4 linked regions of the Homo sapiens genome follow. The protein of the gene in region 1 purifies or fractionates together with the protein of each later gene. This does not show direct contact. Each region holds a gene or a part of one and is shown in the gene's direction. Other genes may lie near its edges.

Region 1 (8,101 bases):
CCAGTTGGCAAATGCCTTCCACTGCCATGTACTGATGTGTGATTCAGAATGCTTGCCTAGATGGTGATTTCTTCCACATACCCCTATACTGCATATTACATACATCTTTCTCCCTACCTTTGGCTTAGGCACAGCCAGTAGCTGTCTCAGTTGTATTATTTTGGGATTGGGGGGAATTCCAATATCATACCTGATTAGCTTCCCAAAGCAGTCTCTTAAAAATTCTGCCAGAATTGTTCCTTTGGGCTAAAATATTCAGTCCACCACTAAATTTCTCCATTCATTTGGTAGGAGTGTATGGCAGGAGAATAGACTCTGGAGTCGGGCCACCTGGCTTCATATCCCCACCCTGCCACTGAATAGCTGTGTGCCCCTAGGCAAGGTGCTGAGCATCTCCAAGCCTCAGTTTCCTCATCTTCAAAACAGGTTATGAGAATAACATGAGATAACAATAAATTCATGCAAAGCATTTATTCTGGTGGCTGGCACCTGTAAGGGTTCAAATTAATAGTAGCTATTACTCTTTTGTTCTTAACTTCATGCCAGGTTCCAGGCTGGCATGGGGATCCAGGGTAAGTAAGATGTGGTTGGCCTCAGGGAGTGTTTGTCCCAACCAGATATGAGTTGGCCCCAGAGGGTCAGGTACCAACATGGGGCTCTGCTGTATTGCTGAACACAATAGAATACAATTATTGAGTACAGAGGTTGTAGGTGGTCAGGGAAGGCTTCACGTGGGAGGTGACTGCTGACCTTGAAGACTCAGTGGGATGTCATGGTAGGCAGCCACAGAAGCACAGAGGAAGAAAACCATAGGTCACATGAGGAATAGCATTGGGGGTGGGGAGGGAGTTAGTGGCAGGAGGTACTGTTAAGCAAAGAGGCCAGACTGGATTCCTAAGTGCCTTATTAAGGGTAAGATTATTAGATTTAGCAAATAAAAATATAGGCCACCTAGTTAAATTTGAATTTAAGATGAGCAACCAATAATTTTTTTTTTTTTTTTAGATGAAGTTTGACTCTTGTTGCCCAGGTTGGAGTGCAGTGGCGTGATCTCGGTTCACTGCGACATCCACATCCCCGGTTCAAGCGATTCTCCTGCCTCAGCCTCCCAAGTAGCTGGGACTAAAGGTGTCCGCCACCATGCCTGGCTAATTTTTTGTATTTTTAGTAAAGACAGGGTTTCACCATGTTGACCAGGCTGGTCTCAAAGTCCTAACCTTAGGTGATCCACCCACCTCAACCTCCCAAAGTGCTGGGATTTTAAGTATGAATATGTCCCAAATATTGCATGGGTTATTTATACTAAAAAAAATTTGTTGGCTGAACACAGGGGCTCATGCCTGTAATCCCAGCACTTTGTGAGGCTGAGGCTGGTGGATTGCATGAGCCCGGGAGTTTTGAGACCAGCCTGGACAACATGGTGGAACCCTGTCTGTACAAAAAATTAGCTGGGCATGATGTCACATACCTTTAGTCCCAGCTACTCTGGAGGCTGAGGTGGGAGGATTGCTTGAGCCTGGAAGGTCAAGGCTGCTGTGAGCTGTGATCTTGCCACTGCACTCCAGCCTGGGTGACAGAGTGAGACCCCATCCCGTCTTTAAAAAAAACAAAATGGGTCTTTTGTTGTTGTTGTTGTTTATCTGAAATTCAAATTTAACCGGGCAGAGCGTATTTTAAATGGCAACCCTACTTGTGTGCCTGGTTCCCAAAAGGCCCTGCTAAAATGCAGACAGGTTTTAGTCACAAGAGGAAGAATCCTATTAAATTGTTGAAGCAGATTTATTTTTCAGAGTAACACGCAAAGTGAAATGGGACATAAAGAAGGTCAGTTGAGGAATTAAAGAGTGTGGACAGATGGTGGGGAGCAAGGAGGGCAGGATGCAGCAGGGACCCTGTCTGGGCAGATGCAGTAGGAGGGCCGGGAAGAGGCCTGGGTCCAGCTTGGAGCTAGGAGGCATCTCTCCCCTTTGTCCAGACTGAGTCCCTGAAAGGCACCTGGCTAGCTGACTGTCCTTTTGTGGGGCTCTCTGGGCCTAGATATGGACTGTTGACAAGGGCTGTGACTCACAGGTGGGATTTGAGGACACGAGTGATGGGAATAGTAGTAATCTTTGGAGAGAAGATGACTCAGCTCTGGCTCTGAGATAACAAGGAATAGAAAAGAAGGAAGGGGGATGAGTGCCCTTTGGACTGTGCAGGCAGCAGTCCTGTATGGGTAAGCTACCTGAGGGTACACCATTTGGGATATGTCTTCAGTGACTCTGTATAACCTACAGAACAAAGCTTGGGGTTCCCAAGTGGAGTACAGGGTCCTTCACAGGATCATTTGAGATGACCTCACTTGAGGTCACCTTCCCACTCTTCCTCTTGGCAGCCACTTCCCCACACTCTAGGTTCCAGCCACACAGAATTACCTGTTGTTAATGATGACAGTCATGGCAGTCACACTAACATTAGAGTACTTAATACTTTCCTGTTGGTTTGAGCACTTGTTTAACTTGATTAATCTCCACCGGGACCCTATGAAGTAGCTACTGATATTATCCCAATTATGTATTTGAGAAAGCTGAGACACAGGAAGTCAAACATCTCACTAAAGGTCACACAGCTAGTAGAGGAATAGAGCCCCAGATGCCTGGGAGAACTGCACAATTAACCATGCCACCACCCACTTCCCCAGCTACATGCTGCGCTTTTATACTTCTGTGGTTTCATATAGCAAACCCAGATCATACAGTACCTCCTCTGTGAAGCTGGTCCCAACCCCACCCCCTTTTCCTTTAGCCCCTACGCAACAGGAGTCCCACCTTGTCCTCTTAGTAGTTTGTATCCAACTTTGTTACGACAGTGAATGCTGCTTTTTTTTTTTTGAGACAGGGTCTCGCTGTGTCACCCAGGCTGGAGTGCAGTGATGGCTCACTGGCTCACTGCAACCTCTGCCTCTGGAGTTCAAGGGATTCTCCTGCCTCAGTCTCCAGAGTAGCTGGGATTCAGGTGCCTGCCACCACGCCCATCTAACTTTTATATTTTTAGTAGAGATGGTGTTTTGCCATGTTGGCCAGGCTGATCTTGAACTCCTGAGCTCAGGTGATCCGCCTGCCTCGGCCTCCCAAAGTGCTGGGATTACAAGCGTGAGCCACCACGCCTGGCGACAATGAATACTTTTAAGTCATTATTATTTACCTTTCTGCCTCCCCACTTGATTAAGGGGCCCATTTTAAATCTAATGCCTCCTCCTATAAGCACAGGGCCTGGCACAAAGTAGATGCTTAGTAAATGCCCCCTGAATAATGCAAGGCCATGCAGCCTGGGGGTGAAGCAGGTGGCGTGGAACAGTAAGCAAGGCATAGAAATAGCACCAATACTCATGGAGCATTTGCACTCCACACATCCTTTTTTTTTTTTTTATTCGAGACAGGGTTTCACTCTGTCACCCAGGCTGGAGTGCAGTAGAACAATCATGGCTCACTGCATCTTCTACCTCCCAGGCTCTAGCGATCCTCCCACCTCAGCCCAAGTAGCCGGGACTACAGGTGTACACCACCACGCCTGGATAATTTTTTTTTGTTGTTTGTTTGTTTTGTTTTGTGGAGATGCGGTTTCGCCATGTTGCCCCTGCTGGTGTTGAGCACCTGAACTGAAGAGCTCCGCCCACCTCAGCTTCCCAAAGTGCTGGGATTACAGGCATAAGTCACCATGCCCGGGCTCACACATCCACTTTCAAAAAAAAAAAAAAAAGTATGCTGGGCTTGGTGGCTCATGCCTGTAATCACAGCACTTTGGGAGGCTGAGGCAGGAGGATCACTTGAGTTCATGAGTTTGAGACCAGCCTGGGCAGCATAGCAAGACCTCATCTCTACTAAAAATAAAAAAAATTAGCTGGGCATGGCGGCATGTGCCTATAGTCCCAGCTATGCAGGAGAATCACTTCGGGTGGGGGTGGGATGGATCCTGCAGTGAGCTGTGTTTGTGCCACTGCACTCCAGCCTGGGCAACAGAGCGTGACCCTGTCTCCAAAAAAATTTTTTCTTTTAATAAATATTAGATTTTCACTGATACCTCATGAGGCCTGTAGAGATAGTTGGTGTTTTTTGTTTTTTTTTTTTTTGAAACAGAGTTTTGCTATTGTTGCCCAGGCTGGAGTGCAATGGCATGATCTTGGCTCACTGCAACCTCCACCTCCTGGGTTCAAGCGACTTTCCTGCCTCAGCCTCCCGAGTAGCTGGAATTACAGGCATGTGCCACTACGCCCGGCTAATTTTGTATCTTTAGTAGAGATGGGGTTTCTCATGCTGGTCAGGCTGGTTCAAACTCCCGACCTCAGGTGATCCGCCCACCCCAGCCTCCCAAAGTGCTGGGATTACAGGCATGAGCCACTGCACCCAACCTGAGATAGTTTTATTACAATATATGAGGCTATTGATTGAATCTCTGGAAATAGAAATAAAGTGGCCCTAAGATGTTTTTAATTTCATTTATTTATTTTTAGAGCCATCTCACTGTGTTTCCCTAGCTGGTCTCTAACTCCTGGCCTTAAGAAATCCACCCCAGCCTCCTGAGTAGCTAGGATTATAGGCATGAGCCCCCACACCTGGCTCTGTTTCTAATTTTCAACTACAGAGCTAAGAAAAACTCCCAAAGTCAGTAATAGTCAATTTTCTAGAAAAATGGAAAAGAACCACAGGTATTCTTTTTTTTTTTTTTTTTTGAGACAGAGTCTCTCTCTGTCACCAGGCTAGAGTGCAGTGGCGCCATCTTGGCTCACTGCAACCTCCGCCTCCTGGGTTCAAGTGATTCTTTTACCTTGGCCTCCCGAGTAGCTGGGACTACAGGCACATGCCACCACACCCAACTAATTTTTGTATTTTCAGTAGAGATGGGGTTTCACCATGTTGGTCAGGATGGTCTCAATCTCTTGACCTCGTGACCCGCCCCCCTCAGCCTCCCAAAGTGCTGGGATTACAGGTGTGAACCACCACACCGGGCCACCACACAGGTATTCTTGAAGTGCCAACTACATCCCTTGCAAAGCAGAAGGAAAGGTTGCCAGGGTTTGGGAGGACAGTGTTGTCTGGGGAGAAATGTAAATGGAAAGAAAAGAAATGGACATATATAGACCAAGCCCTGAGATTCTGTGACCTTCTTCAAACTTCCTGACAACCCCTTGGCGAGGTAGAGAGGTGCCCTTGTTGGAGAGGAGATAGAAGCTCAACAGAGATTCCAACTGAGATCTGATTCCACAGTTCATGCTGTTTCTCTGCATCCAGGAAAGAGGAGAATTGGAAAAACACAAGACAGTTCTTGACCTCCAGGTGTCTGGCCATACTTGGAAGGGAGAACTGGGGCAATGGGCTTTAGGGGCTTAGAGGAGAGAGTGGTCTCTTGGATCAGAAGTGCCTGGGTAGTAGAGGTGGGGGAAGGGGTATTCTTGGAACAAGACATGCTCCTGAATAGAACCAGTCTGTGATGGGGAGGGGATGGTAAGGGGTTGAGATTAGGCTAGAGGTGTTTAAATGCCATGCTGGAGAGGTTTGACCTCTAGTCAGTCATAACTTCTGAGCAAAAGCTACAGATACTTTGTTGCTATCTGTTAGTCCAAGTCCCCAGTCCCTTATCAGAAATCCTGGCACTGAATATGTTTCAGGATTCCGATTCTTCCTGATTTTAGAATGGTAAATAATGTGCTGCAATGACAACTAGGCTGAGTCCTATCACAGGTCCCACGGGACATCAGCCTAAATCCAAAGGCTCTAGGACTGATGACAGCTTTCAGCAGCACAGCATTAGGCACTGTGTTTCTGTGGAAGTCCTTGCAGTGGTCCACATAGAGGTCCAAGAGCTAGTCTTTGCCCCCAAAAGTGAAAACTTGGGAGTAAAGAGATGAGATCCACATGGGGTGGGTGCAGGAACTGCTCTGGCCTAAGTGAAGCTCCATTTTCCTCAGAGGCTGGTCTCACTCATGAGAATGTCATCAACAAAGCTTCCAGTGTTCCAACAAAACATTGTCACACTCTGGGAAACCCAAAGTTATGCATTCCCCATTTACAGTTCCTCCCAGGCCAGATGCCGTGTACCATGCTGGGTCATTTTTACCTTAAGCAGTGTTGCCTGATTACGTATGTAGTTGTCATACTACCTTTATCCAGTCTCCAGGGGAACAACTTAACAGAAGTTAACTAATTCTCACACAGAAAGGAAAAGGCTTTGTAATGTAGCGCTTTACCCACATGTGCATGTATCATGTATTCAGTCACACCTCCAGTGGGTGGCATGCCATACTCATGGCATGTTAATATTCCTGCAGCAGAATGCACTGATACTAACAGGAAGGGGATAGGTAAAGATTAAACCTCACATCAGCTCAGGTCAGGTTTGGTACCCAAAGAGTTTAAAAAAAAACAAACCACCAAGGCTGGGCATGGTGGTTCACGCCTGTAATCCCAGCACTTTGGAAGGCCGAGGCAGGGGGATCACTTGAGGTCAGGAGCTCGAGACCAGGCTGGCCAACATGGTGAAACCCCATCTCTACCAAAAAATATGAAAAGTAGCCAGGCGTGGTGGCGTGCGCTTGTAGTCCCAGCTACTCGGGAGGCTGAGGTGGGAGAATTGCTTGAACCTAGGAGGCAGAGGCTGCAGTGAGCCAAGATCATGCCACTGCTCTCCAGCCTGGGCGACAGAGTGAGACCCTGTCTCAAAAACAAAACAAAAACCCACCAAAAAAAAAACCTTTCAGATTTTAGAGCTTGTAAAGTTTAGTATTATTTGGAAAGGGGATTGTAGACCTGTGAATTTCCTCTCAGGAGATCCCTTGAGACGTGCAACAAGTGAACGTTGCCTGCCTTCCCACTAGAGGGCCCCTGATTATCACTGTGTCCGGGATCCTTGCTAATGGAAGTTCTTCCGTCGCTTCAGCTTGCAGATGCCAGCAAGTTACCTAACCTGAAAGAACTTCTCCAGTCCTCCGGAGACAACCACAAACGGGCCTGGGACCTGGTGAGCTGGATTTTATCCTCAAAGGTCCTGACAATCCACAGTGCAGGGAAGGCAGAGGTGAGACTTTGGTCCGTAGCATCACAGATTTTAGGGGCCTAAGGGCTCTAGGACAGCACTGAATCCAGTGGCTCTGAGACTTCCCTGTGTACCAGTGACCTGGGCAGCTTGAGAATGCAGAGTCCTGGTCCTCACCTTTAGACTTTCTAGTTCTGTGTCTGGAGTCAGGCCCAGGAGCTTTCCCACTGGCTGTACAAAGCTGAATTCTGTCTCATCTCAGCTGTGTGACCTTGAGTAGGTACCAGGTGCATTTCAGTCCCTCCGCTTCCTCATCTATAAAATGGGGATGATAATAGTATACTTCCATCAGGCACTGACTATGAGAATTGAATGAATTTTCACACTTTGAAAATGCCTAAGGGCACATACTAAGGGCTCAGTATGTGTTGGGATTCACTTTATTTAACAAGCACTGCTGGTAATTCTGATTAGGGTGACCCTGACCATACCTTAAGAAACTCTGACCTAGTTCAGTTATCAGGAGATGGAGAGGCAGAACTCAAAGGAGTGGAAAACCTCATGCTCTGGGTTCAAATCCCATTTCTATCGAAAAGGGCCTCCTTTTTTCCATTTATAAATTGAGATGCTGATAGTTACCTCAAAGTGGGGCACTGATAAAATGTGTGTCACCCCCCCAGCACAGTTTCTGGCACAAGTCAGACATTCCATAATTTGGTTTACCTTGCCTGGCTGGGGTCTCCCAGGGACAGGCTGGATAACAAGGACCAGGGTGTAGGACTTGATTCCTGCTCTGGTGCTCTTCCTTTACCCATACTGTTCATCACTTAATTCATTTCAATTTAAGAGTAATCAATTTTACAAGCTCCTGCCAAAGACACACATCTTTCCTATGTGGCGTAGAATTTGGTACCTTGGATTCTGGTATCTAAGGGACATTCTTCTGTGTTAGATGTTAAAATACCATAAAGAGCCCTGGAGGTGGGAGTCAGGAGATCTGTATTCAGTTCCAGGCTGGGTGGCTAATTCCTAGTGAATCTCTGGGTTTCACTGTTGTTATGTGTTGAATTCAAATTTATTCATTCATTTATTC
Region 2 (7,876 bases), on another chromosome or scaffold:
AGGCTGAGGCAGGAGAACCGCCCGAACCCGGGAGGCAGAGGCTGCAGCGAACCAAGATCACGCCACTGAGGTCTCCAGCCTGGGCGACAGAGCAACACTCTGTCTCACACACACACACACCATATATATGCGTATATATAGAGGTGTATATATATTTTATATATATACATATATATACGTGTATATATTTTATATATACGTATATATATATACACGTATATATAGAGAGAGGTATATATATATATATATATATTTTTTTTTTTTTAAACTATAGCCACCCTGTTGTGCTAGCTAACACTAGGTCTTATTCTTTGTTTGTTTTGAGATGGAGTCTTGCTCCGTTGCTCAGGCTAGAGTGCAGTGGCACAATCTCGGCCCGCTACGACCTCCTCCTCCCGGGTTCAAGCCAGTCTCCTGCCTCAGCCTCCCAAGTAGCTGGTACCACAGGCACGCACCACCATGCCCGGCCAATTTTTGTTTTGTTTTGTATCTTTAGTAGAGATGGGGCTTCATTATGTTGGCCAGGCTGGTCTTGAGCTCCCAATCTCAGGTGATCTGCCCACCTCAAAGTGCTGGGTCTACAGGCGTCAGCCACCGTGCCTGGCTTGTTTCTTTTTTTTTTTTTTTTTTTGAAACGGTGTCTTGCTCTGTCGCCCAGGCTGGAGTGCAGTGGTACATTCTCAGCTCACTACAACCTGCGCCTCCCACACCCAAGCGACTCTCCTGTCCCAGCCCTCCGAGCAGCTGAGATCACAGGCGCATGTCACCATACCCAGCTAATTTTTTGTATTTTTAGTAGAGACAGGGTTCCACCATGCCGGCCAGGCCGGTCTCGAACTCCCGACCTTGTGATCTGCCAGCCTCGGCCTCCCAAAGTGCTGGGACCACAGACGTGAGCCACCGCGCCCGGCCTGTTTCTTTTTTTTTTTTTTTTTTTTTTTTAGTATTTATTGATCATTCTTGGGTGTTTCTCGGAGAGGGGGATTTGGCAGGGTCATAGGACAATAGTGGAGGGAAGGTCAGCAGATAAACATGTGAACAAGGGTCTCTGGTTTTCCTAGACAGAGGACCCTGCGGCCTTCCTCAGTGTTTGTGTCCCTGGGTACTTGAGATTAGGGAGTGGTGATGACTCTTAAGGAGCATGCTGCCTTCAAGCATCTGTTTAACAAAGCACATCTTGCACCGCCCTTAATCCATTTAACCCTGGGTGGACACAGCACATGTTTCAGAGATCATGGGGTTGGGGGTAAGGTTATAGATTAACAGCATCCCAAGGCAGAAGAATTTTTCTTAATACAGAACAAAATGGAGTCTCCCATGTCTACTTCTTTCTACACCAACACAGTAACAATCTGATCTCTTTTCCCCACATTTCCCCCTTTTCTATTCGACAAAGCCGCCATCGTCATCATGGCCCATTCTCAATGAGCTGTTGGGTACACCTCCCAGACGGGGTGGCAGCCTGGCAGAGGGGCTCCTCACTTCCCAGACGGGGCAGCCGGGCAGAGGCGCCCCCCACCTCCCTCCCAGACGGGGCGGCTGGCGGGGCGGGGGCTGACCCCCCACCTCCCTCCCGGACGGGGCGGCTGCCAGGCGGAGGGGCTCCTCACTTCGCAGACGGGCAGCTGCCGGGCGGAGGGGCTCCTCACTGCTCAGACGGGGCAGCCGATCAGAGACACTCCTCACCTCCCAGATGGGGTGGTGGTCGGGCAGAGACACTCCTCAATTCCCAGACGGGGTCGCCACCGGGCAGAGGCATTCCTCACATCCCAGACTGGGCGGCCGGTCAGAGGGGCTCCTCACATCTCAGACGATGGGCGGCCGGGCAGAGACACTCCTCACTTCCTAGACAGGATGGCGGCCGGGAAGAGGCGCCCCTCACTTCCCAGACTGGGCGGCCAGTCGGAGGGGCTCCTCACATCCCAGACGATGGGCGGCCAGGCAGAGACGCTCCTCACTTCCCAGACGGGGTGGCGGCCGGGTAGAGGCTGCAATCTCGGCACTTTGGGAGGCCAAGGCAGGCGGCTGGGAGGTGGAGGTTGCAGCGAGCCGAGATCACGCCACTGCACTCCAGCCTGGGCAATGTTGAGCACTGAGTGAGCGAGACTCCGTCTGCAATCCCGGCACCTCGGGAGGCGGAGGCAGGTAGATCACTCGCAGTCAGGAGCTGGAGACCAGCCCGGCCAACACGGCGAAACCCCGTCTCCACCAAAAAATGCAAAAACCAGTCAGGTGTGGCGGCGGGCACCTGCAATCCCAGGCACTCTGCAGGCTGAGGCAGGAGAATCAGGCAGGGAGGTTGCAGTGAGCCGAGATGGCGGCAGTACAGTCCAGCCTCGGCTTTGACAACTTTGGTGGCATCAGAGGGAGACCGGGGAGAGGGAGAGGGAGACGGGAGAGGGAGAGGGAGACGGGAGAGGGAGAGGGAGGAGGGAGAGGGAGACGGGAGAGGGAGACGGGAGAGGGACAGGGTTTTCTAGATATACAATCATATCATTGGTAAGCAGAATGACCGCTTTTAGAGTGCTCCCTGTCCCCAATTTTATGTGTAATTCATTTCACACACTTAAGCCTGCAACAGAAAAATGCACATCACAATTTTAAGTCACTTTCCTCCATCGTTATTGACGTGAGTACAATGTTTTTAGTATTATACCTTTGTTTATTGGAAACTCAACTCATTCCTTATTTTCCTCCTGTGTCATCTGCATCCTCCAATGTGATACCAAGTTTTATATTTTCTTATATTTTCTCACTTTAAGTGGAAGTGCAAGCTTCCACTTAAAACTAAGTGCCCACTGTGATAATTTTGGAATGATATCCTATATCTAATGAAATTCTATGCCAGATAACAAATATCACTGTATACTGTTGTCACTCAAATATGCAAATTAAATAGAACTAACTTAGAATGTACTACTCATGGGTAATAATTGGTATGTATGCATGCTCATGGTCAATAGAAAAATAATCGTATTTGTTAAAAAAGAAGTTTCTCAGCCATGGCTTTTGTGCAACTTCTTTTACCTCCAGACAATGCATGCCCACTCTCAGTTCTGCATGAGTGGGGACCACACGTTAGAAGGGACAGAACATGCCATCAAGGAAATTGTCAAAGAAGAAGCTGATGAGTACTTTGTCATAGTCTTGAGTGATGCAAATCTGTCACGATATGGAATACATCCTGCTAAGTTTGCTCAAATCCTCACAAGAGACCCTCAAGTAAATGCTTTTGCCATTTTTATTGGCTCTTTAGGTGATCAAGCAACCAGGTAAGTGTCATCTGAGCATACAGAAAAGGGCAGGTACAGAGATACTGAGTAGCTAACACATGCTGTTTTATAGGCTTAGCACCATGAGGGACAGTGAGGCAGATGGAGGAAAAACAGAAACTAAAGTTACTAGCCTCAAGGGGTTTATAATCTAGTTGAGGGGATATGTTCTAGCTTTTGTTTAGATGAACAATAATAATTTTAAATTAATTATTTTTTAGTTTATATTTAAGCCACTAATAAATCATTGACAAATTGATTTGTCACTAATAAACCGGGTAGTATTTTATACATTTGGCACTTTATGTCAAGCTCCTAAGCTCAGGCTAATCATTTTGTGTTCAAATCATATTAAAAATCGTGAACATCTACTATTTTCCTAGCATAGGAGATAGTGTGTGTGTATGAATGTCTGTACATATTAGACATATATATACACACATATGTATTATATCCCCATAGAGACATCACCTACATATATGCATGCCTGTATATATATATAGACACACTCACATGTATCCCTTCTTATTGCTGGAGAGACAAGGCAGGTGAAACACTTGGCGACAACATAAGATAATATACATATAGTTAGATACTACACTGAATATACTAAATATTCAATAGAGAATCTTATGATCAGACAATAAATACCAGTGGGTATGATCTGAAAGGAGAGATCTGGAAACACTTTCATAACTTGAACACAATAACATTTATCTTTTTGAATTACAAACAGAAAGAGCTCATGGTTTTTCTGTGTTTAAAATACCTGTAAGAAACATAAAACACCAGTGAAAGTAATCTTAAAAAAAAAAAAAAAAATCCCTGCCTAAAGCACAAAGGGCCTACGTTTTTGTTATTCCACCCCTTTTACTTTTCATACTCTGTGACTGGAAATGTTTTAATATCCAAAATGCTAGCAGCTTTTTCTCTTTCTATTCCCTTTGCCTTGCTGTAAGGTTGCAGAGCGAGGTTGAGAACAGACTTAATATCATGTAGTTACAGTCATTTTATGACATGACTTTTCATTCTTCTTAGTTTTTACAAGTTAGCACTTTGCATCTTTTAGAACCTCCACATCCTCAAACACAAACTATGCCTTTTCCACCCAGGTTTTCCTCAGCATCAGCCCAGTATTAGGCAGACAACAAGCTCAACAAATACTAGTTGAGATGAAATGGCTATTTTGTCTTTCTAGTGAACAGATCCTGTTTGAATACTTAAGAAAGCACAATAATACCCTTGTGGTTTCCTAGGGAAATGGTCCAACATCCACTGGCAAAAGATATGTTGCAGAATTAGCTGGCTTACCAGGCATGCCAAATATACGATACTACACAGGATGGTTGAATTTTATTAAATGTCATTCCAAAGCCAGACTTCACTGGCACAGTGAAAGGAGGCGTTCTTTTGAAGAGAACTGTGTCTTACAGTTTTGTTGCCTTCAAAATGGCCTTTTGTTCCAAATTATAAATTAGTATTTAAAAAAGTATCGTAACTTCAATGACATGTTATTTTTAAGGATAATTCAAATCAAAACCCATTATAAGTTTTTTAAAATTCACTTAAAAATGAGTTGGAAAAAATTTCATAAGCCTGTATAACCTCAGTGTCATTGAAGCAGTAATTGGACAATCCAGATCGCATTTCACATTGTGTGATGTGGACCAAAAAAAAGAGAGAGAGGCAAAGAAAGAGAGAAAGAACCACTCAGGGTTTGGCTGCGCAGCGTTTTTAGAGGCCTGTTTTCTAAGGAAGGAAAAGCACTTCGAAATACAGTGTAAGGTCAACATATTTGCTAGACCCGGGAGGTGAGCTGATTCCATATGAATCCCTATGGCTCTGTTATACCAAAAGAATATGAAATACCAAGAAATGGCAGTAAAGAAAGGAAGAAAATTTTTTCTTTTCAAATTCACTGACTTTCTCACTGAAAAGACCTTTCTTTCAGTTCCCTGCTTTTGCTGTGTCTTTCCTTGTTGCTCTTCCAAGCCTTTCATTGTTTAATGACGACTAATTCAATGGTAGGCAGAGAGCAAGGTATTAGAAAGTAAAAACTTCCTTTCCTAAGAAACCATTAGGGGGCTGTGGTTTGCCAGGGCAGGAGGTGGAAGGGAGCCCCATTTACAGTGGTAACTTCCTTTCCCTTTCCATCCTGGCAGGCTTCAGAGAACTTTACCAGCTGGTCGGTCTTTCGTTGCCATGGATACCAAGGATATCCCTCAGATTTTACAACAGATCTTCACCTCCACCATGTTGTCGAGTGTCTAAGAAGTGCCCTTCATCACCCTGATGACACCAGGATTTGAAATAAGACAGGAATAAAGAGTATTCTGAAAAAAAGAAGATATGGATGAAGTGAACCCATGCAGTGACTGGATGATTCCGGCATTCCTGGGTCTTCCTACACTTGCTCCGTAATGAGAATTCAGAGAAGCAGCCAGAAGGAGACTTAAACATGGAAAGATACTCCACTGATGAGTTTAGAAGTGATTAGGGCAAGCTAGTTGACCTGCACTTTATCAAAGGTTGGGGTTAAAGGAAGGTGGTTTTGAGAACTATGTGTTTGGTCTATTTCCAAAAACCTGAGGGGGAGAAAATACTTTGCTTTTGCCTTAACACATCATCTGGTCACGTTAGAAAAGTGACCCCATCAAACTGAGCCTTTGATGTCACATTCTGACACAAGATGCAAGTCTGTGCAAAACCCACCAAAATGCTCCTATCCAACAATTATTTTTATTTTCTCCCTGCTCTGTATTGACCAGAAAACAATGATTTTATAATATTTAACCCACCAAAAAGTCCCTCCAACAGCAATATCTTATGAAAGTCTGGCTGTTCTCAATAATTTCATTTTCTTGGCCAAAGCCAAAAGGAATCAAAAAATCCTTGGAGTGCTTGCCTTTCCACGTGACTTTTAAAAGGCTCTTAAAGAGCAAATGTCCTCTTCTCCTTGCTGCTAGAGTGGGAGGAGAAAGATGTCTTGCCTTAAAAGTTTACTGTTTCTTCTGTTCTTCTAGCATCTCTCAAAAAATTCACAGTACTCCATTTTGGGGTCCAAACTGTAATGCTCAAAATAATAAATGCTTACACGAAAATTATTTATTGAGAATATTCATATAAAAATTACCTAAAGCAAAGTAAAAAAAGTAAAATCAAGGTGGTATATTTGAAGTGAATGGTGATTGGAAATTTTTAGCTGTAACAAAAAGAAAGAAAACAACTTTTTTTAAAGCCTCATTCTCTTTTCTTTCAAAATGTACCTTATTCCCACACACTCTTGGGCTGACCTTTATTTTATCAATAAGCTCAATATTACTTTGTTTAAAATAAGATGCTTCAGCAAAAGTCATTCTCTCTTTAACCATATAATTTAAAAACTCCTCTTCACGATTGATAGCAAAATCAGAAACGTTAGGGCACCAGTGAGTTGAAAAAACTGGTCTTAAGTTGGAAAAACTATTATTAATAATATTATCCTATCCATCCATATCTATTGAAATTGTACAGGTCCATAATTTCATTTTAATTAATTATAGGAAAGAAGAAAAGATAATACCCATTTGTTCTATCACCCCTCTCCCTATCATTAACTATCAAATAAATAAATAAAAGCAATCTGATTTCCAACGTGGTACTACCTGGTGAGTTTGCATGGCTTTCTTGTTCCTCTAGTGAGACACCTGCTCCATGTATTGAACCATTCAATGATGCAAACAATTTCAATCCAACATGTATCTTTAAAAATGTAATTGCATTCCAACGGTCGCCACAACAGCAGCTAGCATTTACTGATGATTTACTGTGAACCAGGTATATGCTAAGTGATTGCATACATTATTTCATTCATCCTTACAACAATGCATGTAACAGGGGTATTTTTTACCTTATTTTGCAGATGATAAAGAAAGTGAGGCTCAGAGAATTTAAGTCACTTTCCCAAGATTCCTGTTACTAGACCTTTCACTAACTATTCATGGTACCATTAACATCCTCATTTTACAAGTAAAGAAACTGAGGCTTAGAGAAGTTCAAGAAAATAGGCCACACTCACAGCCAGGCAGGGGCAAAGCTGGGCCTCCAGCCTCCAGGCCCCTTAATGCCTTTGCGTCCCTCGCAGTCCCACGCCCCTTGCTGCATCTCACAAATGTACATGTCACACTCCTGCTGCCTTTTTCTCTTCCTTCCAGTGTGACTTCTCTTCTTGTACCCTGTCCACATTCACAGGGCTCTCTTCCTCTCCCTTTCCTCAGAAAGTCTATCTATCTGCCCATATTCGAGCACTCAGAGGTGTGGGGACCGAGGACATGGGACACTGTCGGGGGAACACTTCTAACTGCTGCTTCCTTGCTAGGCACAGCAGCAATCTGAGGAAGTGCCCTTCCAAGTGGCAGCTTAACCCCAAGGGATGCCCCTTAGCTAGCGGGTCACTGCCCCTGAAAGCCTTTGGAAGTGGAATCCAAGGGAGATTAAAGGAACAGCCAACCTTTAGCAAATCCTCCCCATGCGTAACTACCTGAGGAGGCAGAAGCCATTTTTTTTGACATGGAAAGAATGTTCTCAAGTAATTTAATTTACCTTTCTCGACCAGCCAGACATCC
Region 3 (8,101 bases), on another chromosome or scaffold:
CTAATATTTACATTTTTTGTAGAGATGAAGTTTCACTATATTGCCCAGGCTGGTCTCCAACTCCTGGACTCGAGCGATCCTCCTGCCTCGGCCTCCCCAGGTGCTGGGATTACAGGCGTGAGCCACCGTGCCTGGCCTGGGGTATTGTCTTCTTATGGCACCTGACTGTGGTGGGCCCTGGGAAGGAAGTAGCAGAAGAGGGTTCTTCTTGGTTTCCTGGACAGTAACTGAGTGTTCTGGAGGCCCCAGGGCCTGGCTTTGTTTAGGGACAAAGGGAACTGGTAACCAGAAGCCGAGAGTTTAAACACCCACTGCCCTTCTTCCCTGCTCCTGCTGCTGCAACCCAGCTTAACCAGCCAGGAGTGCTAGGAACCCAAGCAGGGCCCCCGAGCACACAGCAGGCAGCTCACGAATTCTCTTTTCCTGTTCTCCCTTGGGAGCTGGGAGGATCTTAATCAGGCAATAAGAGATGGCACTGAGCAGCCAGCTAATTTTTTAAATCACTTTATTGTTTAACCATATGACTCACCCACTTAAAAAAGGGTACAGTTCAGTGGGTTTTAGTGTATTCACAGATGTGTGCAACCCTCACCACAGTTAATTTTAGAACATTTTCCTGCCCCTAAAAGAAACTCTGCATGAAGCCAGCTGTTTTTAAATTAGCAAAGTTATTTTGCATCCTTTAAATATATGTTCATGGTACAAAATTCAAAAGATACAGAAGAGTCTGCAGTCCAAAGAGACTCCGCCCCCATGACGCCAAGCAGGACTCCCTGGGAGGCATGGCCTCCTGCAGTGTGTTTCTTCTATGTCCCCCCAGGGGTCATCTGTACATATGCAAGCATACAAGAGCGTGGACTTTGTTTTCCAAGCCAGAAGATAATTGTAGATTTATGTGCAGTTGTGAGAAAGAGCACAGACCCATTTATCCTCTGCCTGGTTTCCCCCAGTGCTGCCTGCCATCTTGCATGACTTCCATTCCTATCATAAGCAAGACACTGATAACGATTCTTTCACCTTATTCAGATTGACATAAGTGTTTTTTGTTTGTTCTTGAGACAAACTTCCTCTGTCACCCAGTGGGAGTGCAGTGGCACAATCACAGCTCACTGCAGCCTCAAACTCCTGGGCTCAAGCGATTCTCCTGCCTCAGTCCCCTCAAGTAGCTCAGATGGCAGGTGTGCACCATCATGCCAGGCTAATTTTTAAATTTTTTGTGGAGGTGAGGCCTCACTAAATTTCCTGGGCTAGTCTTGAACTCCTGAGCTAAAGTGATCCTCCTGCCTCAGCCTCCCAAAGTGGTAGGATTACAGGCATGAGCCACTGCGCCTGGGCTGACATATGTGTTTTCGTAAGCCCGAAAGATAGCATCTGAAGAGTCAACATTGAGCCTTGCCTTTTGCTGCTAACGATGTATAAAAGCTGCTGTTCTGAGCATTTCGGAGGCTCCCAGCTGCCGTGTGCACCCTGCCTAGAGCTCTACCGTAACCCATCTCCGGGAGGAGGTGCTATTGTTTTCCTCATTTTGCAACAAGGAGGCTGAAGAACTGAGCATGAACCACTGGCCTGGGTCGTTCGGTTGGTAGGCAGTGGGGCCAGGCCATCCAACTCACAACCACCTTCTACTCTGCTTCCCCCGCACCCTGAAGTTTGTTCTGTTTTGAGGACACAGCCGTCACATTCTTGGTGGCTGAACAGCACTCCTTGTCAGGCGTGGCTGGGCCCCCACTGGAGGGCATCATGGTCCTCTCTCCTGCTGCGGTTGAACCTTGGCTGTTTCAACCACTCCTGCCAAGTGGCCCTCTGAAAGGGACAGTCCATCTTTTCTCAGCAGAGGGCCACACTGGCAAAACGGTCCCTGGCACCCTTTCTCTCCACCTGTCTAATATAGAGTAAAAATGGTATCATGTTAAGATCTTCATTTATATTTATTTTATCATGAATGATGTAAGCATCATTTTGTGTGTTTAAGAACCTTTGGGCCCAGCGTGATGGCTTGCAGCTGTAATCTCAGCACTTTAGGAGGCTGAGATGAGCGGATCACTTGAGGCCGGGAGTTTGAGACCAGCCTGGCCAACATGGAGAAACCCCGTCTCTAGTAAAAATTTAAAAATTAGCCGGGTATGGTGATCCCAGCTACTTGGGAGTCTGAAGCATGAGAATTGCTTGAACATGGGAGGCGGAGGTTGCAGTGAGCCGAGATCGCGCCATTGCACTCCAGCCTGGGCGACAGAGCGAGACTCTGTCTCAAAAAAAAAAAAAAAAAAGAAAAGAAAAGAAATTATCAATCTCCTCTTTTATGGCATATATATATATATATATATATATATATATATATATATATATTTTTTTTTTTTTTGGTTATGTTCAGAAAGGCCTTCCCTGCTCTGATCATAAAAAACAACTTATTTTCACACTCTCTCTCTTTTTTTTTTGAGACAGAGTTTTGCTCCTGTTGCCCAGGCTGGAGTGCAGTGGCGCAATCTCAGCTCACTGTAACCTCCGCCTCCCGGGTTGGAGTGATTCTCCTGCCTTACCTTCCCGAGTAGCTGGGATTATAGGCATGCACCACCATGCCTGGCTAATTTTGTACTTTTAGTAGAGACGGGGGTTTCTCCATGTTGGTCAGGCTGGTCTCGAACTCGCGACCTCAGGTGATCCACCCACCTCGGCCTCCCAAAGTGCTGGGATTACAGACGTGAGCCACCATGCCCAGCCCACACTCTCTTTCTTAACGTCCTCCTCCTTTCGTTTTACGTTCACATCTTTAATTCTTCTGGGATGTAATTAGATTTGATGAGCAAGGTGGGCATCCAGCTTGTTTCTTGGCTGATGGCTTATGGGTGGCGTGAATTAGTCGGGGTCTATCAGGAGGCAGAAACTCTATGAGAATTTGAACAGAGAAAGTTCCGTCTACAGGCTTATTACCAGGGACTGGAATAGCAGAAATTGAACAGTGAGATGTACAGAGAACTCTAAGAATGCAGGAATAGGCCAGGCATGGTGGCTCACACCTGTCATCCCAGCACTTTGGGAGACCAAGGCGGGTGGATCACCTGAGGTCAGGAGTTCGAGACCAGCCTGGCCAACATAGTGAAACCCCATCTCTACTAAAAATACAAAAAAATTAGCTGGGTGTGGTGGCGCATGCCTGTAATCCCAGCTTCTCGGGAGTCTGAGGCTGGAGAATCACTTGAACCTGGGAGGCAGAGGTTGTAGTGAGCCGAGATCATGCCATTGTACTCCAGCCTGGGCAACAAGAGCGAGACTCAGTCAAAACAACAACAACGCAGGAATAGCAGATGAGCCGAGTGGCCTCCCCAGCCCCCACCCCCCACCCCCCACCCTGGGCCGAGATCCAGTCCTCTTTGAATAGGGCCTGGCCGTGGTTCACGGGACATCTGAGACATTGCCGAGGCGCTGCACTGGTGGATCTTGCCAGAAGTCTGCCCAGTGCAGATTTGGGCAGAATCTCAAACTGCCTTGGGATGTAGGAGAGAAACCAGGCCTGGTCAAGTTCATGGGAAGAGGTGGAAACAGACCCCATAGGCTGGGGCTTGGGCAGCTGTAGGAAGCCCTCTCTGCTGCCTCCCTGCCTGCTCTCTGCTTTGAAGCATCTTCCCCAGTGCCCCCAGTCTCATGCCCTCTCAACGTTGGGGTCAAATCCTGAGGAATACCCAGACTGGCTCTCTGGGCCAAAGAGGACCCTCTCCAGAAAGAGCAGGGCCCAGTGCGGCTTCCTAAAGGGCAGGGGAAGGGCCTGGCCACTCCCCAGAGGCTACTCACCAGCCATCAGGATAGCCCCAGGAAGCAGGCCTTCTCGAGCCCATTTTATTACTTTATTTTATTATTTTATTTAATTTTAAATTTATTTTTTGAGACAGAGTCTCACTCTGTTGCCCAGGCTGGAGTGCAGTGGTGCGATCTCAACCCACTGCAGCCTCTGCCTCCAGGGTTCAAGGGATTCTCCCACCTCAGCCTCCCAAGTAGCTGGGATTACAGGTGCCCGCCACCACACCCGGCTAATTTTCATATTTTTAGTAGAGATGAGGTTTCACCATGTTGGCCAGGCTGGTCTCGAACTCCTGACCTCAAGTGATCCGCCCGCCTCGGCCTCCCAAAGTGCTAGGTCAAGCCCATTTTAAAGTTGAAGAAACTGAGGCTGAGGTAAATTCCCTCCCCAGGGATCCTGCTGCAGCCAGAAGGTGGTAAAACAGGACTTCACCCGGGTCTGTCTGGCGTGAAAGGCAGTGTTCTTGTACCACCCTAGGGGGCCTGAGAGAACTGAGTCCCTCGGGCATAACTGACAGTTCTGTTCCCATTATTCCGCAGGGGCTCGGATCTGGCTGTATGCTTTCCAGGATGGCCTTGGAGACCCACATAAGCCCTACACCCTTTGGGAAGCTGCATGTTGGGTTGGGGTGCCGTCAGTGGCACTTGTGGAAGGTGCAGACCTGTGTGGGTGTGTGGGCCCAGGGCCCCTGGTCCCTTCCTCCCTTTGTAGGGCTGGTTGTGTGCTGCCTGGACCTGGGGGGCACGTTCACGTGGTGAATTTGTCTATTTACTATCCCCGCTTTGGGGCTGGTGCCAGCACAGGCCCTTGTGAAGGGGGTGCCTTTGTCTGGAGTGGGACTGTGGCCCCTCCCTCAGCGTGGTGACTTCTGTGTCAGGGCTTCAGCAGGGACGCAGAGCCCCTGAGTGTTCGGAACAAGGGCGTCATTGCAGGAGTTAGACTGTGTGTGATGGAGGGAGGAGGGGCAGGAGGAAAGGTCAGAAGGAGAGTTCCTGGGAAGGTCCCTGAGGAGCCTGGTGAGGTGCTAACTGGTGTGGAGGACACTCAGGGCCTGTGGGGACATCTCCTACTGCTGGGGGCCAGCCACAAAGGGAACTGGCCGAAGTCCTGTCCCCGCCTTCACAGCCCAGCATCTGGTCACAAGGCAGGTACTTGGAAGGGCGCGGGCACCTGGGCCAAAAGTGCCTGGGTTCCCTTTGCCTTTCACTGAGATGACCTTCGGGGCAGGTGGCTGCTGCCTCCCCTCCTGTCCCCAGGTTTTGCCAACTGGCCAGAGGAAGGGGTCCTGGGAAGCAGGGGGGCCAGAAGCCCTCTCTGCAAGGAAAGCCCGAGGGGTGTGGGAGGAAGGAAGGAATGCCCAGGCTGGCGAGGCTCTAAGTCACCCTGGCTTGGCTCTCCTCAGATCCTGAACCCGCCGCCCTCCCCGGCCACGGACCCCTCCCTGTACAACATGGACATGTTCTACTCTTCAAACATTCCGGCCACTGCGAGACCGTACAGGTAGGACATCCCCTGCAGCCCTCCATGGCCATTGGGTTCCCGCCAGCCCGTGGTGGAGGGGCCTAATCCCCATGCCACTGATGAGGGGAGGTATTCTGGGTGCTAGTGGGCAGGTGCCGGGCCCAGCCCTGCCTCCCTCTGCTCTGCCAACCACACTAGGCTGCCTCCCCAGACAAGCTCAGCGGGCACTGCATGTTGGGTTCAGAAATCAGCAGAACTCCACGTTCTGAGCTGCTCTTCAAGTTGCTCCTATGGGGGTTACTTTTAAGCTGGGAAATGGCTGTGGCGTCGAGGGGCCGGGGGCTTGGGCTCCAGAGTCTGACTGTGTGTTTGAGTCCGGCTGTGGAAACCTAGCCATTGAGATGCCCCCTCTTGGTGGCTCTGTCCTCTTAGGATGGGACAAGTCTGTGAAGGCTGCTGCAGCACCCACCGTAGACCCCTAATCGTGTGACGTCACCAGGATGGTCCGGGCTGCTCACTTGCCACAGTGGCCTGTTTGAGCCCGGGAAGCCAACGGGGCTGCTCAGCTGGACACCAGCCCCCCGAGCTGCCCATGTTGGGGTCACAGGCCCCACCTCCCTGGTTGGGGAGGGGCAACTGAGAGTGTGGAGAGGTGGGACCCAGGTGTGCTGGTCTCCGCAGGGGCTGGATCAGAGCCTGGGATGGGCAGGGTGAGCCTCCTGACCTTTAACCCAGTGGTGTCAGGCAACGTGGCCCACCCGCCAGCCGCACCAGGCCCCACCCCCGCAGGTGAAGGGGTGGGATAGGCTGGGCCTGGGCCAGGACACCTCTGGACCACGCATTCCTCATTGCTTGGGTCCCTGGAGCAGCAGGGCCTCCCGAGTGTGGTGCCGCCTGCCACCTAGTGGCCATTTCCACGAACTCCCAGGCCTGGCTGGGGAGCCGGAACTGCAGCCTCCATTTCCACCCCACTCCGGGTCGGGCCACCTCCCTGATGCCTCAGTATTATATCAAACTGTCACAGTCTGTCCCACAGCCTTACAGACCACTGTCTCCAGAATGGTCACATCCACACTGGGCAGCCCAGTCTCGCTAGTTCCTCGTCCCACCTCCTGCCTTTGCTCATGCCCGTCCTGCTCTGGGCCCACCGCGGACACATCTTCCCCCCGCCCGCCGTCTGACCTCACAGCAGCTGGGCCCCAAGAGGAGTATCCTGTCCTGCTGCACTTTTCTCAACACCCGGTGTTGGCTGCACCTTCCCACCCATTGCAGGCCCCTCTGTGACAGGACGGGGGCTCCTAAACACACCACAGTTCCGAGTCTGAACTCACACAGTGGGATGCGGCGTTTCTGGGCCACAGTTGGGTGCAGGTAGCCTCTGGGAGGATGGGAGGTCAGGAGCCATCTTGCGAGTCAGGTTGCTTGAACTCAGGATGGAAGTGTTCCGGGCCCATTGGTTGCTGTATTAGCCTGTTCTCACGCTGCTAATAAAGACATACCCAAGACTGGGTAATTGTAAAGGAAAGAGGTTTAACGGACTCACAGTTCCACCTGCCTGGGGTGGCCTCACAATCATGGTAGAAGACAAGGAGGAGCAAGTCACATCTTACATGGCTTCAGGGAACAGACAGCATGAGAACCAAGCGAAAGGGGTTTCCCCTTGTAAAACCATCAAGTCTAGTGAGATTTATTCACTACCACGAGAACAGTATGGGGGGAACCACCCCCATGATTCAATCATCTCCCACTGGGTCCCTCCCACAGCACGTGGGAATTATGGGAGTACAATTCAAGATGAGATTTGGGTGGGGACACAGCCAAACCCTATCGGTTGCCAACATTTACAGTAACAGTGTTAGGTGAACAGTTGTCCAGTCTCCTGTTTTGTCGGACACTGTTTCTAGCACCTTCCAGGCAGAATCTCATGTATCCTTCACTTTCGAAATGGGTACTATTTCATCCCCACTTTTATCAATGAGAAACTAAAGCTCGAAGAGGTCAAGTAAGTTCCTGGCCAAGGTCAGCTAGCAGGCTCTAGAGGCCTCGTTCTCCTTAGAGGCAGCCTTGCCAGGGCCCAGGCTTGGCAGGCTGCAGGGCAGGTGCGGGCATGCCCATGGTAGAGGTGGGACCATTGAGGCTCAGAGAGGGTAAGTGATGAGCCCTGGCGACACAGCGGGGTGGGTCCAGAGTCCGGCCTGCATCTTCTGGAGCTGGCCAGTGGACAGGCCTTTCCCGTTCACAGCCCCGGGGCTGCTGTGCCCACCAGGGCGGATGTGCCTACCGAATCCCACTCCTCTGTGTGTGTCCCTTTCAGGCCCTACATCATTCGAGGAATGGCGCCCCCGACGACGCCCTGCAGCACCGACGTGTGTGACAGCGACTACAGCGCCAGCCGCTGGAAGGCCAGCAAGTACTACCTGGATTTGAACTCGGACTCAGACCCCTATCCACCCCCACCCACGCCCCACAGCCAGTACCTGTCGGCGGAGGACAGCTGCCCGCCCTCGCCCGCCACCGAGAGGAGCTACTTCCATCTCTTCCCGCCCCCTCCGTCCCCCTGCACGGACTCATCCTGACCTCGGCCGGGCCACTCTGGCTTCTCTGTGCCCCTGTAAATAGTTTTAAATATGAACAAAGAAAAAAATATATTTTATGATTTAAAAAATAAATATAATTGGGATTTTAAAAACATGAGAAATGTGAACTGTGATGGGGTGGGCAGGGCTGGGAGAACTTTGTACAGTGGAGAAATATTTATAAACTTAATTTTGTAAAACAGAACTGCCATTCTTTCGTGCCCTGTGTGCATTTGAGTTGTGTGTCCCCGTGGAGGGAATGCCGACCCCC
Region 4 (8,101 bases), on another chromosome or scaffold:
CTGGAGCACACACTCCATTTTGGCTTGCAACAAGTATACTGGTGAGGGTCTGCGTGAAATCCATTCTGACATCTTCTCTCCCATGGATATACATGCCTTCAGCCAACAGAGGCAGCCAAATGGTAAGTGATCCTTGATTTTTAAATTGCAAGTTGGAACAGCTTTGTAGCACTCTAATGTCTGGCTTTAGTGAGGATCAGGAGGAGGGAGGGCATATCCAAAGATAGTTGGCGGGAATAAAAAAGAGTTAAAATCCTACTTGGGAGGCTGAGGCAAGAGAATCACTTGAACTCGGGAGGCCGAGGTTGCAGTGAGCTGAGATTGCGCCACTGCACTCCAGCCTGGGAGACAGAGAAAGACTGTGTCTCAAAAAAAAAAAAAAAAAAGTTAAAATCCCAGCACTTTGGGAGACTGAAGCAGGCAGATCATATGAGGTCAGGAGTTTGAGACCAGCCTGGCCAACCTGGTGAAACCCTGTCTCTACTAAAAAATACAAAAATTAATGGGGTGTGGTAGTGTGCACCTGTAGTCCCAGCCGCTTGGGAGGCTGAGGCAGGAGTGTCACTTGAACCCGGAAGGTGGAGATTGCAGTGAGCCGAGATTGTGCCACTGCACTCCAGCCTGGGCAACAGAGCGAGACTTTGCTCAAAAAAAAGGGAAAATGTAAAAGTATAATTCAGGTTAGGCAATAGCCTAGACCATTTTGTAGCCTGTCACTACAGACCACCTCAGCCTTTTTGAGTCAGCGCTTTTAGAGGTGGAGAAGAGAGAGATAATTTAAAAATTGAGATAGCTTATATGCTAGGCTTATACACAAATGAGTTTTTTTGTTCATATTATTTCTTTCAGTATGTAGTTGAATGTGTTGATGTGAGTGTGTTTAAAAAACAAACTCTTGGGCCAGGCGCGGTGGCTCATGCCTGTAATCCCACACTTTGGGAGGCCAAGGCAGGTGGATCACTTGAGGTCAGGAGTTTGAGACCAGCCTGGCCAACATGGTGAAACCCCGTCTCTACTAAAATAACAAAAATATTAGCCAGGCGTGGTGGCGTGTGCTTATAATCCCAGCTACTTGGGAGGCTGAGGCTGGAGAATCGCTTGAACCCGGGAGGCAGAGGTTGCAGTGAGCCAAGATCACGCCATTGCACTTTCAGCCTGGGCAACAAGAAAGAAATTATGTCTCAAAAAAAAAAAAAACAAAAAACACACACACACACAAAAACGCCTCTTCTTTTTAAATGAAAACTCTGTTAATCTAGAATATATTTGAATTTAAGTACCTCAGCTTGCTAAATAAAATACCTACTTAAACTTTTCTGTGTACCCCTCCCACCTTGTTTTCCTTAGTTTTGGTTCTGTGTTTGGTCAGCCTTTACAATGACTCGGGCTATGACTGCTGAGAACTTGTAAGAGAGGACTGGAATTAGGTTTAAAAGGAATACGAGAATGTTAAGGGTTTGGCACTTTTGTGTAAATAAATGTCTGGCATCTGTCTGAGTGTATTTCAGATTTTATTACATAGCCAAAAATGAAGAGATTTTGCAACATATGTTGCTTTATATTAGCTCTCCATTTAGGGGGAGATAATCAAATATTGAAAGTGTTATGTTGGAATCTGATGATCATGAGCCCATAAAAATGTTTTTAAGTGTATGTGTTACTCTTCTGTACAAAAGAAAATGTTCAGTCACTTGTATGAATTTTTTTATTCTTCATAGCCCTCAAAAGAGAATTTTCCCTGTTTTTTGTTTGTTTTTTGAGATAGAGTCTTGCTCTGTTGTGCGTTTATGTGATCACGGCTCCCTGCAGCCTCGAACTTCCAGGCTCAAGTGATCTTTCCACCTCAGCCTCCCTAGTAGCTGGGACTACAGGCATATGCCACCACACCTGGCTAATTTTAGTATTTTTTATAGAGGTAGGGTCTCACCATGTTGGTGACCCAGGCTGGTCTCAAACTCCTGGGCTCAAGTGATCCACGCACCTAGGCCTCCCAAAGTGCTGGGATTATAGTCACGAGCCACCGTGCCTGGCCTCTTGTTTTTCTTTTTAAATGGCATTGTTGGTCCTTTATGTTTTACTAATTTGAGAATTTGCAGTTATCTTTCATGTTGGTTACTTTTATCTTTCATGTTCCATTGGTCTCCATCTTATGTTGATTTTTTTCTATGAGTATTGTTTGGACATATCCCTTTCCATAATTTCCAAAGTTTGCTAATTAGTTTTCTCTGATTTTCATTTTCCCCTTTTTTCTGCTTATCCCTTCTATGTTAATCTTCCCAAGGCATGACTTTTCAACATAATTACTTTTCTTGGCTTTCAGTGTCCTTCACTTTAATCTATTCCCATTCTTTGTATTCATTCAGCTTTAGTTCCTATTAGTCAGTAGAAACCTTAACCTCCAGTTATACTGTTCACCTTAATATCTTACCCAGTTTATAGCCCCCAAAGTTTTATTCAGATAGCTTTACCATACTTGAAATGTCCTCTTATCTATCCTTCCTATCCTTGAAGGCTCCCGTGCTGTATACTCCACAAAGCTCTTCTTCAATTCTTTAAACCTCAGCGGTTTTTTTCCCATTTGACTCTGTACTTATTGTCTATAATGTGCAAAATAGCACTTAGTTTTATTGGTTTTGTTTGTTTGTTTGTTTGTTTTTAGTTTTGCTTTTTGTTAATTTTGTTTAACTGACTAAATTGTAACCTCTTTTAGGGCAGGGATCTCCTGCTTTACTTCTTGTGTATTCCTCTTTGGTTACAAAATACTAAGTAAATTCACACTGATTAATTCCTGTCTTTGCAGATGGTTTGATAGTCAAGCACCTGCATGACATTTGGTAATAATTTTGGCTTATCACAGTTGTTCATGTTATGGTTGTTAACCTTTGTGTACTTAGTAATCATTGATATTAATCAATGTGATTTATATTTGACAGCCACAAATCCATGTGGAATTGACAATGGGGGTTGTTCCCATTTGTGTTTGATGTCTCCAGTCAAGCCTTTTTATCAGTGTGCTTGCCCCACTGGGGTCAAACTCCTGGAGAATGGAAAAACCTGCAAAGATGGTAAGAAGATATTATCCAAAATGAAAAATTTTATAACTATTGGAATTCTTCATGATTTGTTTTCTCTATAATCAGCTCTCTAGGTTATACTGCTTTGGGAGACCAGTCACTTAATTTCACAGTCTTCACACATGGTTATAGAATAGGAGTGTTTTGTTCTGTGGCATCACTTGAATGCTATTTTATAAATTATTTTAGTGTTTTAAATAACATATTTTTGAAAAAAGTTACGTGTTGTATCTTTTCTGTCAAATCTCATAGTCATTGATATCACAGTTGATAACTATGGAAATGAGTAGTCGCATAAGGAATATATTTTTAACAGGTAGCATTTGTGAATAAAGAACCTCTGTGAAAGAAAGTATGTTTATTAAACTTTTAGCTACAAAGAATATCATGAGATATATTTTATAACAAATTATTTAAGGATGTTTTAAATTGCTTTTTAACAACAGAGAGATGCTTTCAGAGCTGGGAAAAAAAATCCATATTTAAAACAACTTCTTTTTATACTTAAGAAACACACTTTGCCTGTTCTCCTTACTCTTAATTCCCTATAGAGAGAGGGCACGTTGGAGAAAGTATACTGATTTAGGACATTTTAAGGGACTTCCAGTTTGGAAGAACACCAGTTCTTCTGTTTTTCTTCTTAATGAGAATGTTATTCTTCATTCTCACCCCTATGGATCACCATCTGGTTCTCTAGCAACCAGCAAGACCTGGTAAGAAAATTGTTGTATTTAGCTGTGGCTTCTTTATCTAACTCTGAAAAGCAGAAGCCTGTGTTTTGGAGTGTGTTAGAGTCCCTGGCAAGGGGGCCAGGGAGTCAGAGAGATGGAATTGAGTCTGTGTACAGGATGTTTGTTATGACTTGGCATTGATAAATTATCCTCATAGTAAAAGGTGAAGCTGGCTGACTCTTGGTCAAATGGTTTCCATGGCAGACAGCAATTTGGTTTCAATTTAAAACAAAAGGTTTTTGTAATGTTGCTTTTTTCTTTAAAAATGTAGCCTGACTTTAAAACAGAGGATTTATTTTAGCAATAATGGTCTATCTGCTCCCTCACAGCAGTGCAAGTGTACATATTTAACCAGTTTTGAATTTCATGTGTGCATTTGGCATGTAGTAGCCTTAAGTTAACTGTTCTGTTTTGATCACCTTGCTCAAATTAACAGCTCTATGACTTCTTTGTGAAGTTCTAGGCTGGCTCCTTTTGGTTGTTAGCCGGGGCAGTGAATTGTACAAAGTTATTCCTACTTGGTTCCTGCAGTGGCATTTGGGCTGTATTTTCTTCAAGTTGGAATTCATTTATAATTAGCTCTAGAGTGAAAGGGCTGATATTGAGAGGCTTCACTCCTCTTCTCAGTTTTTTGACTTGTAATTGCAGATTGATTCTTGAAGTTTATATGCCAGTATTTTGTTTTGGACTCATTTATTTAGCTGGGAATCTTTTCTTATTCTTTCAGTTGTCAATTTGCTTACTGTCTTTTATTAGCTTCCTATAGTTAGACGATTTTTTGCTGGTGGTTTACTTGAACAATTTAAAATGAAAAAAAGATTGAGCTCAGTATCTTCATTCTTGGTTATGTGGTTAAGTATTTGGGGCTTGGGCTTTAAACAGTTCATAAATAAACCTAATTTAAAATTCAGTGAAATAAAAATCTGAAAATCTTTATTTTTTAATACTGTTGTTAAGTATTAGTTAATATTTCTTGAGTACTTAAATGTTCAGTACTTTCCTGAGTTTTAGATTTATCTCCTTTAATCCTTACAACAACCTTACAAGGTATAGATGGGGAAACTAGGCTTAGCGAGATTAGATATTTTCCCAAAGTTTGTGTAGCTTCTTGAATCAAATTATATTGGATCCACAACTCTTAACCACTGTGTTATGTTTATCTGGTTCCTTCCCTCCATTGCAGCTGTTTGTTTCTCCATAGCTTGCTTTGTCCTCAATTCTGTGAGGTATTGCCCTGTATTTCTCTTTGTTAAGACAGTTTTACTGAGATGTAACTTACATAGCATATAAAATCCATCCATTTTTTAAATTGTACAATTCGGTGACTTTTTAGTAAATTTACAGAGTTACGCAGTTATCACCACAATCCAATTTTAGAACATTCCTATCAAGCACAAAGATTCTTGTCCTAAATTTCTTTATCTTTTTTTAAAAAATGCTTCTTGAACAAAGGATCTATATCCTACATTTCCTTCTCCTTTAATACTGAGCTACTTAGCTTCTTAGTCATTACATAGTCATTATTCATTGTACTTTTAAATAGCTGGATTAATTCCAATGAAACCATAGAATGTATCACAACTTAATTTGGAGAGTTAGCCATTAAACAGCTTGACCTCAGAGTAGACTCTTCTATTTCACTGTATTACTTTCCATTTCCACTCTAAAGAGAGTGCACATCCTTTTGTGTTAATTTATGTATATTTTATATTTATTTTTCAGTTCTTGATTCTTTATCTAGAGCAGGTAAATTTTACCTCTGGGTTTCAAAGTATTCTTCATTTCACTTTGTTGTTCTAGGTGCCACAGAATTATTGCTTTTAGCTCGAAGGACAGACTTGAGACGCATTTCTTTGGATACACCAGATTTTACAGACATTGTTCTGCAGTTAGAAGACATCCGTCATGCCATTGCCATAGATTACGATCCTGTGGAAGGCTACATCTACTGGACTGATGATGAAGTGAGGGCCATACGCCGTTCATTTATAGATGGATCTGGCAGTCAGTTTGTGGTCACTGCTCAAATTGCCCATCCTGATGGTATTGCTGTGGACTGGGTTGCACGAAATCTTTATTGGACAGACACTGGCACTGATCGAATAGAAGTGACAAGGCTCAATGGGACCATGAGGAAGATCTTGATTTCAGAGGACTTAGAGGAACCCCGGGCTATTGTGTTAGATCCCATGGTTGGGTAAGAAGCTCTACTGATAGTAAATTCTGTGTGGTGTTTCTGTTTTTCACAGGTTCCTGAAAACATTGACTAAGATAACATGACATATATATTGGTTTCCAGTAAACAGCTCTTTAATGGCTGTCTATTTTAGGATATGGTGATTAGAATACAATCTCAAGTTTAAAAATTGCTAGTTTTTTGCCTTGGATGTCTTAGATATTTTTTCTTTCTAAATTAAGTCCATGTTTGCTGACTTTGGGTGTTGTCTGCAGATTTTGCTCGGATTGCATCATTACCATGAAAAATGTGGGAAGAAATTGTTTTCAGAACTCTTTCCCTTCCCCTAGAAGCTTTAATTCCATTTTCAGTACTTTATAGTAAGAATATAGCTTACTTTTTTTTCCCTAAATACATGAATGACTTGATTTCCAAAACTTTGCCAGCCCATGCAGCTTTACTTCTAGTTTGTTGTTGTTGTTTGTTTTGTTTTGCCATGCCACCCTGATCATAGTCCAGGGAAGTACAACTTTTTACATACTCAACAATTTTGTTACTTTGAGATTTATTCTGAGGACAAGCATAGTGACAAATTACACCTCAGTATATACCAATGCCTTAGAGCCATCTAAACATCCAGGAGCCGTAAGAATCACTTAGCACTGCAGGAAGAAATAGTTATTTTGAGAATTCAGTTTGCCATCTGACTAATACTGCTGGGATAAGCCTTTTGTGTCAGAGAGATGACAAGCCATCAAGGAAAAGAGAGAGAAAGTTCATGGAAAAGGGCACACAAAATATTTAAAAAAAAAAAAAAAAAAAAGAAGTAAAACTGTAATCTCATTATTGGGAGGCATTTTCAGGATTGGCTCTAGAACACACTGATCTGAAAATTTCCCACAATCTTATATATTGCTGGGATAAATGTCTTAAACACCTCTTCATATGTTTTTTTTTTTTTCCCCTTCCTTGGCATTAACTGATGATACCAGTGTAATAGGAGGGATGGATCTCACCTTTAGAATATCTGAAAGTTACATTTTATTATCTATTTTTAGCTCATTTTTTGTATACTTCTCTAGGTACATGTATTGGACTGACTGGGGAGAAATTCCGAAAATTGAGCGAGCAGCTCTGGATGGTTCTGACCGTGTAGTATTGGTTAACACTTCTCTTGGTTGGCCAAATGGTTTAGCCTTGGATTATGATGAAGGCAAAATATACTGGGGAGATGCCAAAACAGACAAGATTGAGGTTTGTTTTTTGCTTTTTCATTTTCAAGCCACTTTTATAATGGGTTTTGAGTCGACAGTATAATGATTTGAGTACAGATATTCTTTTTTCTTAACAGTTGTCTGGGGTGCCAAAGGTACCTTTTACAGAAATTTTACTCAACCTTCATGATTCTAGGGATAATATATTCTCTTCCACATAATCCTAGGATGGAGAGATGTATTGGTATGAGAAATGGCTGCTGATCAGTTTCTAGTCTTAAAAGCTTATGTAAGTGATTTTCCTCATTTTGGGTAAAGCCACTTTCTGAATTTCCTAGGGGCAATTTCTGCAAACCAAAATTATGTAAGATCTATACTGGAAGAACTGGCTGTCCTAAGTTAGGAAAACAAAGCCCACATGTATGTGTATATCTATATCTATATCTATATCTATATCTATATCTATATCTATATCTATATCTATATCTTTTATTGCTGTTAACTGGTGTTGGGGCAGATGGTAGAATATATTAAATATTATGATGGTTACATGCAAACAATTTTAAAATTGATTTATGGGCTGTGTGGGAACAAGACTAATTAACCAAAGCTTGGGAAAAAATATTTACCAAGTGGTAGAGTTAAGTTTGTGGCAATCAAATAGATTATGGTGAAAATAATCAGTGATTAATATTTTATCACAGTGTTTTATTAGTGGCCTATATCCCTGATATTGGTGTTAAGTCTAAAATTAACAACTTTGAATTAGACTTTGCTACAGGTCTTATGGATCACATAGATAGAACAGAGTTAGGTCTCAATTTTCCTTTGGGGGAAACTTCACATACAAGGATGGCTTTAAATGGCTCTTCAGAGAGACACTGTACACATCTAATGGACAGAAAA

What was found.
Region 2: the proteins of PARP16 (region 1) and VWA8 purify together in Homo sapiens (affinity purification with mass spectrometry; 3 studies listed by BioGRID and IntAct, with this or other methods). This does not show direct contact.
Region 3: the proteins of PARP16 (region 1) and LRP5 purify together in Homo sapiens (affinity purification with mass spectrometry; 3 studies listed by BioGRID and IntAct, with this or other methods). This does not show direct contact.
Region 4: the proteins of PARP16 (region 1) and LRP6 purify together in Homo sapiens (affinity purification with mass spectrometry; 3 studies listed by BioGRID and IntAct, with this or other methods). This does not show direct contact.

Annotation. Positions count from the first base shown.
Region 1 is NC_000015.10:65,269,884-65,277,984, reverse strand, and holds part of PARP16 (protein mono-ADP-ribosyltransferase PARP16), read left to right. Parts: intron 1-6,912; coding exon 6,913-7,050; intron 7,051-8,101. UniProt on the Homo sapiens protein: Intracellular mono-ADP-ribosyltransferase that plays a role in different processes, such as protein translation and unfolded protein response (UPR), through the mono-ADP-ribosylation of proteins involved in those processes.
Region 2 is NC_000013.11:41,565,864-41,573,739, reverse strand, and holds the end of VWA8 (von Willebrand factor A domain-containing protein 8 isoform a precursor), read left to right. Parts: intron 1-3,033; coding exon 3,034-3,272; intron 3,273-5,344; exon of another isoform or gene 5,345-5,434; coding exon 5,435-5,543; 3' UTR 5,544-6,905; downstream 6,906-7,876. UniProt on the Homo sapiens protein: Exhibits ATPase activity in vitro.
Region 3 is NC_000011.10:68,441,241-68,449,341, forward strand, and holds the end of LRP5 (low-density lipoprotein receptor-related protein 5 isoform 1 precursor), read left to right. Parts: intron 1-4,332; coding exon of another isoform or gene 4,333-4,462; intron 4,463-5,195; coding exon 5,196-5,293; intron 5,294-5,686; coding exon of another isoform or gene 5,687-5,744; exon of another isoform or gene 5,745-5,917; intron 5,918-7,568; coding exon 7,569-7,830; 3' UTR 7,831-8,035; downstream 8,036-8,101. UniProt on the Homo sapiens protein: Acts as a coreceptor with members of the frizzled family of seven-transmembrane spanning receptors to transduce signal by Wnt proteins.
Region 4 is NC_000012.12:12,178,944-12,187,044, reverse strand, and holds part of LRP6 (low-density lipoprotein receptor-related protein 6 isoform b precursor), read left to right. Parts: coding exon 1-122; intron 123-2,933; coding exon 2,934-3,065; intron 3,066-5,605; coding exon 5,606-6,002; intron 6,003-7,063; coding exon 7,064-7,235; intron 7,236-8,101. UniProt on the Homo sapiens protein: Component of the Wnt-Fzd-LRP5-LRP6 complex that triggers beta-catenin signaling through inducing aggregation of receptor-ligand complexes into ribosome-sized signalosomes.